Linked DNA regions of Homo sapiens: all the other regions are reported to be linked to region 3. Evidence: microRNA targets listed by miRTarBase, many of them from high-throughput screens and not tested one by one. Region 3 holds a microRNA gene; each other region holds the end of a gene's coding sequence.

What was found. Region 3 holds the annotated microRNA hsa-miR-4638-5p (ACUCGGCUGCGGUGGACAAGU, at 1,981-2,001, shown strand). A microRNA usually pairs through its seed, bases 2 to 8, with sites in the 3' UTR of a target mRNA and lowers its output. Matches are read on the target gene's strand: a 7mer-m8 pairs with bases 2 to 8, a 7mer-A1 pairs with bases 2 to 7 and ends in A, and an 8mer does both.
Region 1: miRTarBase lists RPL34 as a target of hsa-miR-4638-5p. The part of its 3' UTR that is shown has no 7-base or 8-base seed match.
Region 2: the mRNA of TRMT10B is a reported target of hsa-miR-4638-5p. Seed matches in the 3' UTR shown: 8mer at 638-645.

The regions. Positions count from the first base shown.
Region 1 is chr4:108,624,688-108,628,930 of GRCh38, reverse strand. RPL34 (ribosomal protein L34) reads right to left here. Exons shown (of 5, transcript NM_001319236.2): 5 at 3,561-3,803. The coding sequence ends at 3,719. Among named protein-coding and RNA genes, the nearest start is that of RPL34, 6.2 kb to the right of the region's middle.
Region 2 is chr9:37,777,313-37,781,555 of GRCh38, forward strand. It overlaps TRMT10B (tRNA methyltransferase 10B), which reads left to right. Exons shown (of 9, transcript NM_144964.4): 9 at 289-1,660. The coding sequence ends at 395. EXOSC3 (exosome component 3) reads right to left here. Exons shown (of 4, transcript NM_016042.4): 4 at 2,402-3,568. The coding sequence ends at 3,367. Among named protein-coding and RNA genes, the nearest start is that of EXOSC3, 5.6 kb to the right of the region's middle.
Region 3 is chr5:181,220,613-181,224,612 of GRCh38, reverse strand. It overlaps MIR4638 (microRNA 4638), which reads left to right and starts at 1,980; the gene lies at 1,980-2,047. TRIM41 (tripartite motif containing 41) reads right to left here and starts at 1,332. Exons shown (of 6, transcript NM_033549.5): 1 at 1-1,332. The coding sequence starts at 613. It overlaps TRK-CTT2-3 (tRNA-Lys (anticodon CTT) 2-3), which reads left to right and starts at 2,562; the gene lies at 2,562-2,634. TRV-CAC1-5 (tRNA-Val (anticodon CAC) 1-5) reads left to right here and starts at 2,146; the gene lies at 2,146-2,218. RefSeq lists enhancers at 1-436, 1,104-1,333 and silencers at 584-793, 2,064-2,293, 2,544-2,753.

The DNA.
Region 1 (4,243 bases), not on the chromosome of region 3:
GAATGGCTTAAACCCAGGAGGTGGAGGTTGCAGTAAGCTGAGATCGCGTCACTGCACTCCAGCCTGGGTGATAGAGTGAGACTCTGTCTCCAAAATAATAATAATAATAGTAAGTAGTGAAATTGAGATTTTTTATCATTCTATTTTTCCAAACTTTCCAAATAGTCTACAAAGCTGTTTGTTAAGTAAAACCATTTAACATACCAAGAATTCTTGGAAAAGAATGTACACCTCAATTCTTTAACTTCCTTACATTTCTCAAAGGTCACCCATTTCATATTTTGCTGAAACTTGCTAGTTCCCACCAGCTAGAGCCTGTGTCCAGTCATGTTGTTCTACCTAACTTGGAGCAGCAAGGAGAGGGAGGAGCCTCCTTCCACCAGCAAGAACTCAGGTTGGGGTGGCAAATAGGCTTTCTCTTCCACAGCAATTTTTTCAGAAATTACATCTCAAACCTTTCAAAAACTAGACTGGCCTACAGAGCAGCCAATTAGTTTAAGTTTTAAGCCACATTATTGTCTGAGTATATTATTAAAAGTGCCAATTTTTAGATGGTTATATCAAATACAATAAAACACAGTCACAGAACTGCTTGGTGCAGTATATATAAGCCTGAATCATGAGAAAGTGATGTAAATCTGCCTTAGAATTCAAGCTTTTCAATTCTATCCCCGTTTTATATTTTCAATACTGTGATTAAACATTATACAAGATAATTAATTCTATTATCCTGGTTGCTTAACAATCTTTGGGATTGGCAGGTGTTTGGAGAAAGCTAATGTATCTCAATCGTTTGAGACTATGAATGTTGACAACAGGGATCCCAGCTATCATTGATTATGCTAGCATTTATTAGGGTGCCCGGTCATTACACTTATTCACTAACACAGCTGCAAAAATCCTACCAACAATACAAATGGCTCTGGGTTTTCTATAACCTGTGTCTGTTCTCTCATCAGTAAAATGGGAATAAAGCTGTTGGAGTTGCTGGGAGGACTAAAACAAATTTGGTGGAGTCAGGCACACAGCCAATCAAGTGTACTGTGGTTAAAATTAAATTTTTTTTTTTTTTTTGAGGAGTCTCACTGTCACTCAGGCTGGAGTGCAGTGGTGCAATCTCGGCTCAGTGCAACCTCTGCCTCACAGGTTCAAGCGATTCTTCTGCCTCATTCTCCTGATAGCTGGGATTACAGGTGCATGCCACCACTTCTGGCTAATTTTTGTTATTTTTAGTAGAGACGGGGTTTCACCATACTGGTCAGGCTGGTCTCGAACTCCTGACCTCCGGTGATCCACCTGCCTCAGCCTCCCAAAGTGCTGGGATTACAGGCGTGAGCCACCGCGCCTGGCGGTTAAATTCTTAAAAGGGAGTTCAACTGCCAGCTTTGCCACTTACTAGTTCTGTGACTCCTCTTCTGCAAAACACTAATTAAAAATTTTTTATACCAAGAACAAGTTAACTGGCAGTGGGGTACAGTAAAGGTGTTATGAAATCCCATTTTTTTTGCCTTTTACCTTAAGGGGTATTCTTATTTTTTAATTATTTTTTAGGCAGGGTCTTGCCAAGCTGCCCAGGGTGGTCTCCAACTCCTGTCCTCAAGTGATCCTCCTGCCTCAGCATCCCAAGTGTTGAGACTGGGACTATAGGGGTGAGCCACTGGGTCTGGCCTAAGAAAAGGTGTTTTTTTTTTGGAGACCGAGTCTCGCTCTGTCGCACAGGCGAGAGTACAGTGGCGCGATCTTGGCTTACTGCAACCTCTGCCTCCCGGGTTCAAGCAATCCTCTTGCCTCAGCCTCCCGAGTAACTGGGATTACAGACGCATACCACCACGCCCAGCTAGTTTTTTGTATTTTTAGTACAGACGGGGTTTCACCGTGCTAGACAGGATGGTCTCGATCTCCTGACCTCATGATCCGCCCGCCTTGGCCTCCCAAAGTACTGGGATTACAGGCATGAACCACGGCGTCCAGCCAGAAAAGCATGTTCTTATGTATAGCTAAGCGGTAACTCTCCTCTGCTTAAGTAGTTACATCATGCCAGTTAGTAGGTAAATTTTCCTCAACTGAGGAAAATAGTCAAAATTTACTGAACTCCCCAGGTACTTTCAGCTTCTGCATTCCATGATGGCTCAAGGTCTCTGCTCTCTACTCAGATTGGAATAAAGCTTGTTATGGCTTTAAGAGATGGTGTTGGCCGGGTGCAAGGGCTCACGCCTGTAATCTCAGCACTTTGGGAGGCCAAGGTGGGCGGATCACTTGAGATCAAGAGTTCAAGATGAACCTGGCCAATATGGCAAAACCCCATCTCTACTAAAAATACAAAAATTAGCCGGGTGTGGTGGTGGGCGCCTGTAATCCTCAGGAGGCTGAGGCAGAATTGCTTGAACCCAGGAGGTGGAGGTTGCAGTGAGCCGAAATCGAGCCAGTACGCTCCAGCCTGGGCAAGAGCAAGGCTCCATTTCAAAAAAAAAAAAAAAAAAAAAGGTTGTCAGCCAACAGGTTGGGCAGAAGAATGGCTCATGCCTGTAATCCTGGCACGCTGGGAGGCTGAGGCAGGCAGACTGCTTGAGCCCAGGAGTTTTGAGACCAGCCTAGGAACATGGTGAAACTGTTTCTCAAAAAACCAAAAATGAGCCAGGCATGGTGGTGCCTACCTGTAGTCCCAGCTACTTGGGAGGCTGAGGCAGAGAATCACTTGAGTCCAGGAGGTGGAGGTTGCAGCAAGCCAAGATTGCACTCCAGGCTGGGCAGCAGGAGTGAAACCTTGTCTGAGCTGGCAGAAACACTACATAGTTCCCAAGAAAAATGAGGTCTGTATTTTAACATTCTGGCCTGGATAATAAATCCAATGTAGATCAGAAACTATACCCTTGACCCAAGGTTTTATATATAGTAGCTCACTCATTTGTTAAATAAGGAGTTCTGAGCTCTCCAAGATACCATTTTTGAACTGAAGTGACCTAAAAGAACAGAGGGTTTAAAAACAATCTTAAAAAGGTTCCATTCCAAGGAACTAGAATACCAAGGTTTCTATCCTATGAAACTTGCTGACGTAAAGGAGATACCATAGTAAGGATCAAAGGGATATTAAAGTTTCAAATAGAAGGGCCATTCCTCCCAAACCACCCTGAAGTCTCAGCCCACAAAGAGAAGGACATTATGCTCCAATGCAGCGGTAGAGCTGTCACCAAAAAAATTCTGGCCATCAGTGACCACCAACTGTTTCTTCAGAAAAAGTAACCCACTGGCTGGGTGCTGCGGCTCGCACCTTAACACCAGCACTTTGGGAGGCCGAGGTGGGCAGATCACCTGAGGTCGGGAGTTTGAGACCAGCCTGACCAACATGGAGAAACCTCGTCTCTACTAAAATATACAAAATTAGCCAGGCATGGTGGCACATGCCTATAATCCCAGCTACTTGGGAGGCTGAGGCAGGAGAATCACTTGAACCTGGAAGGCAGAGGGTGCGGTGAGCCGAGATCCTGCCATTGTACTCCAGCCTAGGCAACAAGAGAGAAACTCCGTCTCAAAAAAACCAAACCAAACCAAAAACAAACAAACAACAAACAAAACAAGAAAAAGTAATCTGCTAAAAACTATAGGGTCCCCAAATACCATACAGAAACAAAATCTGTATACTAACACATTACAACAGAAAAAAAAAAAGTCATACATACAGCGTCTTTTCATTTTTATTACTCAAAAAAGTTTCATTTTTTTATTTAGCTTTCTGACTCTGTGCTTGTGCCTTCAACACTTTCACAACGATTTTCTGCTCCTCGATAAGGAAAGCACGCTTGATCCTAGAAAGGAAAATACCAAATTAATCATTTCTTTAAAATGAACTTCATTTTTTATTTAGCACAGAGAAGGCAAACATGGTAAAGAACCAAGCAAAGCAATCAGGGAACCCAGGAAACTACAGGATACACAAATACAGAGTAAAACTTAAAAGGTGAAATTCATTTAAAGCAGGATAATCCTTCAATTTCATGCCAGTAGTTATCTGTCCTCCTTCTGAGTCAAGATAAACTATGAAGTCATCCCCACAGGAGACCACTTATGAGAGCTCTAATTTATTGTTAGGATCCAGGAATAGTGGTATTTCTTGATTTGCAAAATGTCTTAGAATATTTTAACCATATTTTTGAAAATTCCCAGTAAAAAACAACACATAAGGGGCTATGTGTTAAGAACTAAAATTAAAAGGTAAAGGGATATTAGCAAGAGACACCTCACCAAG
Region 2 (4,243 bases), not on the chromosome of region 3:
GCATCTTGGCCCTTCCCCATCCCAGGCCACAGCAGAGCCCTTCTGTTTCCCATTTTACTGTGTTCCTTTCTGTTGCACCCTATCCATTCATAGGCCTGTATCTTTCAGGGTAGGCTGAGGTCCTTGAGAGCAAGCAGAGCCTGTGTCCTTGCCTCTCCCCGCAAGACCTTAGTACCACATATGGTGCAGAATAGGTTTGTTGAACGAAATATTACAGAACATCCTTTTCATTTACTCGTTCTTTTTTTCCCTCTGTGGTCACTGTGTTTTCTGTTTACTCTCTAACAGTGTTTGATATCCTGTCCACTTACTTAGAGACTCACAACTGGCCTGAAGCATTGAAGAAAGGAGTTTCTTCAGGAAAAGGCTATATTCTTCGGAACTCAGTGGAATGATGGGCCTAAGATTGCAGCTGCGTGGCCAGGTGCTCACGCCGTAATGCCAACACTTTGGTAGACCGAAGTGGGCAGATCACCTGAGGTCAGGAGTTCACGACCAGCCTGGCCAACATGGTGAAACCCTTCTCTACTGAAAATACAAAAATTAGCCAGGTGTGGTGGCGCATACCTGTAGTCCCAGCTACTTGGGAGGCTGAGGCAGGAGAATCACTTGAACTCGGGAGGCGAAGGTTGCAGTGAGCCGAGATTTCACCAGTGCACTCCAGCCTGGGTGACAGAGCAAGACTCCATCTCAAAAAAAAAATAAATAAAAAAAAATGCAGCTGCAGGAGTGAGGCGCTTGGAGGTACCTTGACCCAAAGAGCAGGGCAGAGGGTGGCAGTGGCACATAGGCAAGTGTCTTTGCATGACATCTTCTCAGAGCTTCACAATAATGTCAGGGACCACATTTAATGCTTTTTAATCTCCCATAGTGCCTGGCTCACAGGAAGTGCTCAGATATGTTAAGTAATAAAAAGTTAATGTGGTGGGTGCAGTGGCTCACGCCTGTAATCCCAGCACTTTGGGAGGCTGAGGTGAGTGGATTACAAGGTCAGGAGTTCCAGACCAGCCTGGCTAATATGGTGAAACCTCGTCTCTACTAAAAATACAAAAATTAGCTGGGCATGGTGGTGCGTGCCTGTAGTCTCAGCTACTCAGGAGGCTGAGGCAGGAGAATCGCCTGAACCCGGGCGGCGGAGGTTGTAGTGAGCCAAGATCCAGCCTGGGCGACAGAGCCAGACTCTTGTCTCGAGGGGAAAAAAAAAAAAAATTATGTAACAAGGAATTAGCCTCAAAACCACATGGCTTTGGACGTGCTAATTCAACTTTTGTACATCTATTTGTGAGAGACCTCTTGAAATTGTTTAAATGGTTACATCAAGAGTTTAATATTCACTAAACTGGCATCATAAAATTGTATGACTTTCTCCAGCCTTGTCTGATCATGCTCGTTGTTGCCCAGCTCAGTAATAAGCTTTGCAGGATCCAGCCTGTTCTGACCTATCCCTACTGAGTCCCCATAGCATTTTGTTCCCTCCTGTGGCTCTTACCTTGTTCTCCCTTGCAGAGTATGGGCATGGAGGGCTTCTCTTCCTAATCCTTCCTAATGGTAGGATCCTAACAGGACAAATCTGTGTACCTATCTTTCTATCCTCCCTGAGCCTGTACCAACTAGATTCTTCATATGTATTTGTAACAGATTAAATTGGAAAGCAAACACAGTATTGATTAAGTCTGTCTTGAAAATAGCTAGAAAGTGTTAGACACATGAACACGTTAGATAACCTACTTATTACACAAATCTCATGTTCCTTATGTCCCAGTTGGACATATTTGCTTCAGTTACTCTGACAGTTTGGGTTAACTTGCTAGTTAAGCAGCTAGCAAATTTGGGACATGTATTCAATATCTCAAAAGAACCAACAGATTACTTCTCTGCTGTGTCCCCTCCCCTTCACAATTTAATTCCTAAGGAACTGTTCACCTAATCAGTACTTTTCTATTTAAAAACTGGCTAGACAGTTCATAATAAAAGATATGGGACCAACCTAAGTACCCATCAACCAATGAATGGATAAAGTGTGGTATATATATCCCATGGAATATTAGCCATAAAAAATGTCTTTTGCAGCAACTTGGATAGTATTGGAAGCTATTATTCTTAGTGAAGTAACTCAGGAATGGAAAACCAAATACCAAATGTTCCCACTTTAAGTGGGAGCTAAGCTACAGGTAAGCACACAGAGTGGTATAACAGATACTGGAGACCCGGAACAGGGAAGGGGGAAGGATAAACTACATACTGGGTACAATATATAGTACTCAGGTGACTGGTACACCAAAATCTCAGACTTCACCACTATACAATTCATCCGTGTAATCCAAAACCACTTGTACCCCTAAAAGCTATTGAACTAAAAACCATCCAGTCCTTAGAAAACATTAGAAACACACGAAGCTCCTTGGTCTTTATCAACAAATAGAGTTCTATAATCTCTTTGATCCAAAAAGGACTTTCTATGGATAGGCTTCAGGGGATCTGTATCTCACATATTCTCAGAGGTCTAGAAACCAAGAATCACTGATGTGGATCACCTGGCAGTCTCTTTACCTCTAAAGGTTTTGGTTAATATACTAAATAGCATAGAAGAGTTTTCTATGCTTAGCTCCTAGGAAATGATTTTAGCAAAATAAGACTTGGCCAGATTTGGATTCAGAAATCCTCATAGTGTTATTTATATAATGATAAAACTCAAAAATATCCTGTAACATGAAATATGTGACTAAAGTTGTGAAATGTATCATGCTGTTTGAAGTAGACAAAAGTATATTACAAAGTGGCATATAAGCTATAATAACTATAATTTCAATTTGATGAATATAGAGAATGTAGGCCAAGTTAAATTCTGTGCCTCAGTTTCAATTATGAGGATAAGTGTCTTCTGCAGTTAGAATAAAGGAGTTAATCCATGCAAAACACAATACTTGGTAAATGAAAAAGTATTTCGTTGTTATATACTCACCCGCTGAATAATGGGACTACAGGTGACATTTCTTTGCTGCTTTATACTTAGGTATTCCACATTTCCTCTGGTGAACCTGGCTTACTGTTATAATCACAAAATTATTTTACTGCTGACCTCCAGTTAATTATGGAAGCTGTAGCAATTACTAAGGGAGTTAACTCCAAATAAACCCTAATACTGTTTTTTAGTAAACTTTATTGTACCGAACAAAAAAAATGATTTTGCAATGATTTTCTCTCCCACAAAAGCGTGGGTGAAAACCAGTAACTTATAAAAATACTTTCGGACTCTAATAATACATACATTCACACCTTATCTTCTGAGTATTTAAATGGGGGAGGTTCACCTGAAAAAACCCATAGTTTTTTGCCTCAACTGACCTGTAAAAAAGTCCACCTATATCAACTTTCTGCCAATCTGGAGAAGATCTGTTTTCTTTGATCTGACGTCATGTGTTCACAAGCTTCTAAAATGTTTGCCAAAATTAAAGTCTGCTGGATGGTTTTTGCCTTAACCCATATTCTTCCATTCATTCCAAATACTATCTCCAGTGGATAGAGTTTTCCCACTTCCTGTATGATTTCACAATCTGGAGCTAATAGCCTGGTGGGAAGAGAAAAGAAAATGAAATTTAATGAAGTGGCAAAGGTGTGTCCGGAGTCTCCTTTAGAATGTGATTCCTTTTCTGAGCAGTTCTCCATAGCTGTTCAACAAGAACAAGGCACGTGATGACATTTGCTGCCTCCTTTCTTCCAAGAAGGAACTTTACACTGTTCAAAGGTATACTAGAAATCACAGAGGTGGGCTATGCCTTACAAAGAAATCAAACTCCCTAGGTTACCAACTTTGTAAAAGTCATTCCCCTAGATGGTCAGAGCACTTTAATTCTAGACTGGGAATCATAACTTTTTTTATCTACAGTGTTAAGACACTTTAAACTTATTTTCCTGGCCATATTATTCTCTTGTGTTAAATTCAGTACTTGGAGAGGAACATTGGCTCTTTCAAACCATAAGGGTGGTGCTTGGTTAATAACATGCTTCTTGGTTAAAAACATGCTTCTCTGATGTCCAAACTTAATTCTCCAGATCTTTAGGATATGTAGTAAGGAGAGGCATACAAGATAGCTCTCAACTTCACTGGCTCTAGGAGTAAAGCCCCTGAATATGGCACAGCTTTGGGTGGGTAAAGTTCTAAACACCAAAAAGAGAATCTGCCTCAGCATGAACCTCAGTATGCCTCAGTATGACCAAGTGTCAGAAGCCTTCTGTGAATGTC
Region 3 (4,000 bases):
CCATATTGGCCAGCTGCAGGTTGGGGCGGAAGCTCCGCCGAGGAAAGCTCTTTCGGCACTGAGGGCATGTGAAGCACCTCCGAGGGGCTGGAGGCGGGGGCAGTGGGGTGACGGGGTCTAGATCCTCTTCCTCAACCTCCTCCAGCACTTCCTCCTCGTCCTCCTCATCCTCCCCCCTCAGGTCCTCCTCCTCCATGTCCCCCAAGTAGTAGTCCAGGTCTTCCTCCTCGTCCTCCTCCTCCCACACATAGTCCATGTTGTCCCAGCTGGACCTGCTCATGCCACTGGTCCAGAACACACCCTCTTCTTCCTCCTCGACCTCCTCCTCCATGTCACCCTCGTAGTCTTCATCCCGCATGGGGGTGTCCCACCCCGCGCCAGCCCCCACAGCCTCCACTTCCTCCTCCTCTCCGTCCTCCTCCTCCTCCTCCCGATCTAACTCATCTCTGTCCTCCTCATCCTCCCCACCCCACAACTGGGTTACACAAACTCGGCAGAAGTTGTGCCCGCAGCCGATGGACACGGGGTCCGTGAAGTAATCGAGGCAGATGGCGCACACCGCCTCCTCCTGAAGGGTCTGCACAGGGTTGGGTGTCATGGCAACGGCAGCCATCTTAGTGTCCAGCCAGCCAGTGTAGAGGTTCGGTGGGGGGGCGAGGGGCGGGGGTCTTCCCTACCGACGCCCTGGCGACCCGGCTCCACCCCCAGCCCTGCCCCTCCACACCTCGCCCCAAGAGCAGCCAGAGAGATGTCCTGCCGACAACCCACCCCAACACAGTGTTCCCTACTCCCAAACGACAACCGTGTCTCTACGAGGGGAGGGGACAGTGCTGGGCGCCACCGCCAAGTCCCTCAGGTGGCTCTGAGTACAAGTCTGCCCCAATGCTCCCTTGGACTCCTCATAAACCCCCGCCCCTCCTCACTTCCTGGCCCCGCCCCTAGCTTCCGGCCTCCTTCCCAACACTTCCGGCGTCTACACACCACCTAAGCTCGCGACTTCCCTCCGCTGTCCTGCTACTCCCCCTTTTTCCCCGCGGGGCCCCAGGGCGACAGGAAATGGCGAGGAGACGCTCTAGTCCGCACTAGAGAACAGGGCGGGAGGGCTAGGACGGTGGAGGCCCGCGTCTCTGTGGTAAGAGGCCGCGGGGAACGCAGAAAGAACAGAGGAACCGCCTACCCCCATCCCCCGCCGCTGGGGAGAAACTTCGGGGGGTAGGGGGAGCGCCTGGCGGCCGTCTGCTTTCGGTGCTATCACCGCATCGGCCAGACGCCATCCTACCCTCCCGGCACAGCCGACTGCAGCCGGTACTCCCCACAGCCGATGCCGGAAGCGAGGGGGTGGGTCCGCGGCGCGCCCTGAAGTACTTCCGGCCCTTCTAGGCAGACGACTTCGTTGTGGAGGACTCAGAGGGTCGTCCGGGTCGGACCGGGGGCGGGGCCTGAGAAAGCGCTTCGCGGGTTAGGGCAGCAGACGCCCCACCCTTCCCCAACTGTAGTCGGCGTTTCGCATCCGAGGTAGAAACTGCCAACCGGACACTGTCTCATGGTTTAGATGAACTTCCCTAACTGCCCAGCAGTGAAGAAGTGGTGACGAATCATTACATCTACATTCTCACAGCATCTCTGCAAAAATAGATGCTTTGTGCGGTAGAAATAATACTTGATGCTTAAATAGCTCTTTAAATTTTATTTTTATAGAGATTTGATGTCGATACATAAATAAATAAATGTTGTTTGATGCGAGAAAAATGACGGGGCCATGATTTATGTACAGAATCTCCAGTGAGTGCCAGACACAGCGTGACGCCAGGGCTGGGCCTGCAGAACTTACCCTGCTCTCAAGGCGGCTCGCGGGAAAACTCCAGATGGACGTCGCGCTTCCTAGGGGGGTGGTCAGGCCTCTGAGTATGTCAGATCAAACGCGCCAAAAACCACGAACCCTCGTGGGTGAACTATGCTAGGCCATTACAGGACCTGCGGACTCGGCTGCGGTGGACAAGTCCGGCTCCAGAACCTGGACACCGCTCAGCCGGCCGCGGCAGGGGTCCCCGGGCCTGTCCTACAAGGGCGCTTGCCTAGAGCTATCCCGGCCGTCTCAGCCGTGTGTGTCTTCAGGACGATGCCGGCAGGAAAGTAGCCAAGGTGGTTTCCGTAGTGTAGTGGTTATCACGTTCGCCTCACACGCGAAAGGTCCCCGGTTCGAAACCGGGCGGAAACACGTTTTGGTCTGTTCGGGAGATTCTCTCCCGAGGCCGGCCTTACGTGGCAGGAAGGACATGTGTGTCCCTGCGCTTCGGAGGAACACGGACTGGGGCAAAACTGAAGGAGAGCACTACTCAAGTAAATTCAGGTCTCGCCCCTCACCTAATCTCTTGCTCTTCCCTTCTGAAGCCTATGCAGCCATCACATGTACAGGAATCCGTAGATTTCAGATCCTCGGCTCTAGTGCCTAGAACAGAGCCAGGCGCAGGCGCTTCTTAGTATTTGCACAGTGGAAACGTGCTTACACCTCTGAGGGTAACCTCCATCTTCAGAGACAAAGTTAGAATACAGACATGGCCGCCCGGCTAGCTCAGTCGGTAGAGCATGAGACTCTTAATCTCAGGGTCGTGGGTTCGAGCCCCACGTTGGGCGTAATTTCGCTTTTTGGAAAGGTTAAGGCAAGTTGTGTTACCTAAGTGCACAAATGGTATTCTCTGTACCAAGACCTAGTGGGTAGCAGATTCACCAACAGTGGGTGTTAGAACTTGGACTAACCTGGTGTTCTCCGATCCGTGTGTGGAAGGCCCCGAGCAGAATTCTCACAACGTTTGCACCCTCGCTAACTCTCAAAGAAAGAATGAGAGGCGGGTACCTGTGGACCAATTCCTGCAGGCCAGCACCGCGGGCTATCGTGCATGCATGACCCTTTGCTGTAGGCCACTCGCCCACGGGCAGCACATATTAGGCATTTTATGTTTACCAGACGGCCTGCCCCCGTCTTGCTGTGAGACTTGCTGTGCTGGAGGGAACAATGTGGTTTATCGAAACTGGGGTGAGACCGCAGGACGACCCCAGGCGTTCGTGAGCGTCAAAACCTATCTGATTCACTCCCACTTTACTGGGAGATTTAGTGGTTAGGCTTCCGCCTTTGTCTCGCTACGACCTGCTTTCGACTCCCTGTCAAGAAAGATGCTTTGTGTCATATGAGACACTTGTCTTCCGTATATTCTTTTTTATGCTCTTGACTTTAAGAGTCTATTTTTGTGAGATGTTGCCCCACAAATACCAGCCTCCACGTTTCCCCCATACATAAATAGAGATAAAAACGGGCCATGCGCCGCGGTGGCTTATGCCTGTAATCCCAATACTTTGGGTAAGCCAAGGCGGGAGGATCGCTTGAGCCCAGGATGGCCTCGAAATTAGTCCTGCAAATATAGGCCTTTTTTCTTTTTTTCTTCTCTTTCTTTCTTTCTTTTTTTTTTTTTTTTTTTAAGATGGAGTCTTGCTCTGTTTCCAGGCTGAAGTGCAGTGGCACCACCTCGGCTCACTACGACCTCCGCCTCCCGGGTTCAAGTGATTCCCCTGCCTCAGCCTCCCGAATAGCTGAGACTACAGGCGCGCCACCACGCCCGGCTAATTTTTTGTATTTAGTAGAAACGGGGTTTCACCATGTTGGCAGGACGGTCTCGATCTCCTGACCTCGTGATCCTCCTGCCTCAGCCTCCCAAAGTGCTGGGATGACAGGCGTGAGCCACCGCGCCTGGCCCCGTTTTGTATTTTTAAGCTGTCGAAGTCTCCTCCGCATACGCACCACACCACGAGAGAAGTCTGTTGATCATAGAAAGCTGGCTTAATCTCGCTGAGCAAAAGATAGCATCGTCTTCTGTCTCAGACGTAAATCAAAGCGGGGACTTATGAGGGCTATATAGTCTGTGAGGGCGGTCTGGGCAGAAGTTGGTCAACGTTTGTAAATAGGCAGAGTCGCTAGTACAATCCTAGCACATGAGTTACTGGTGTT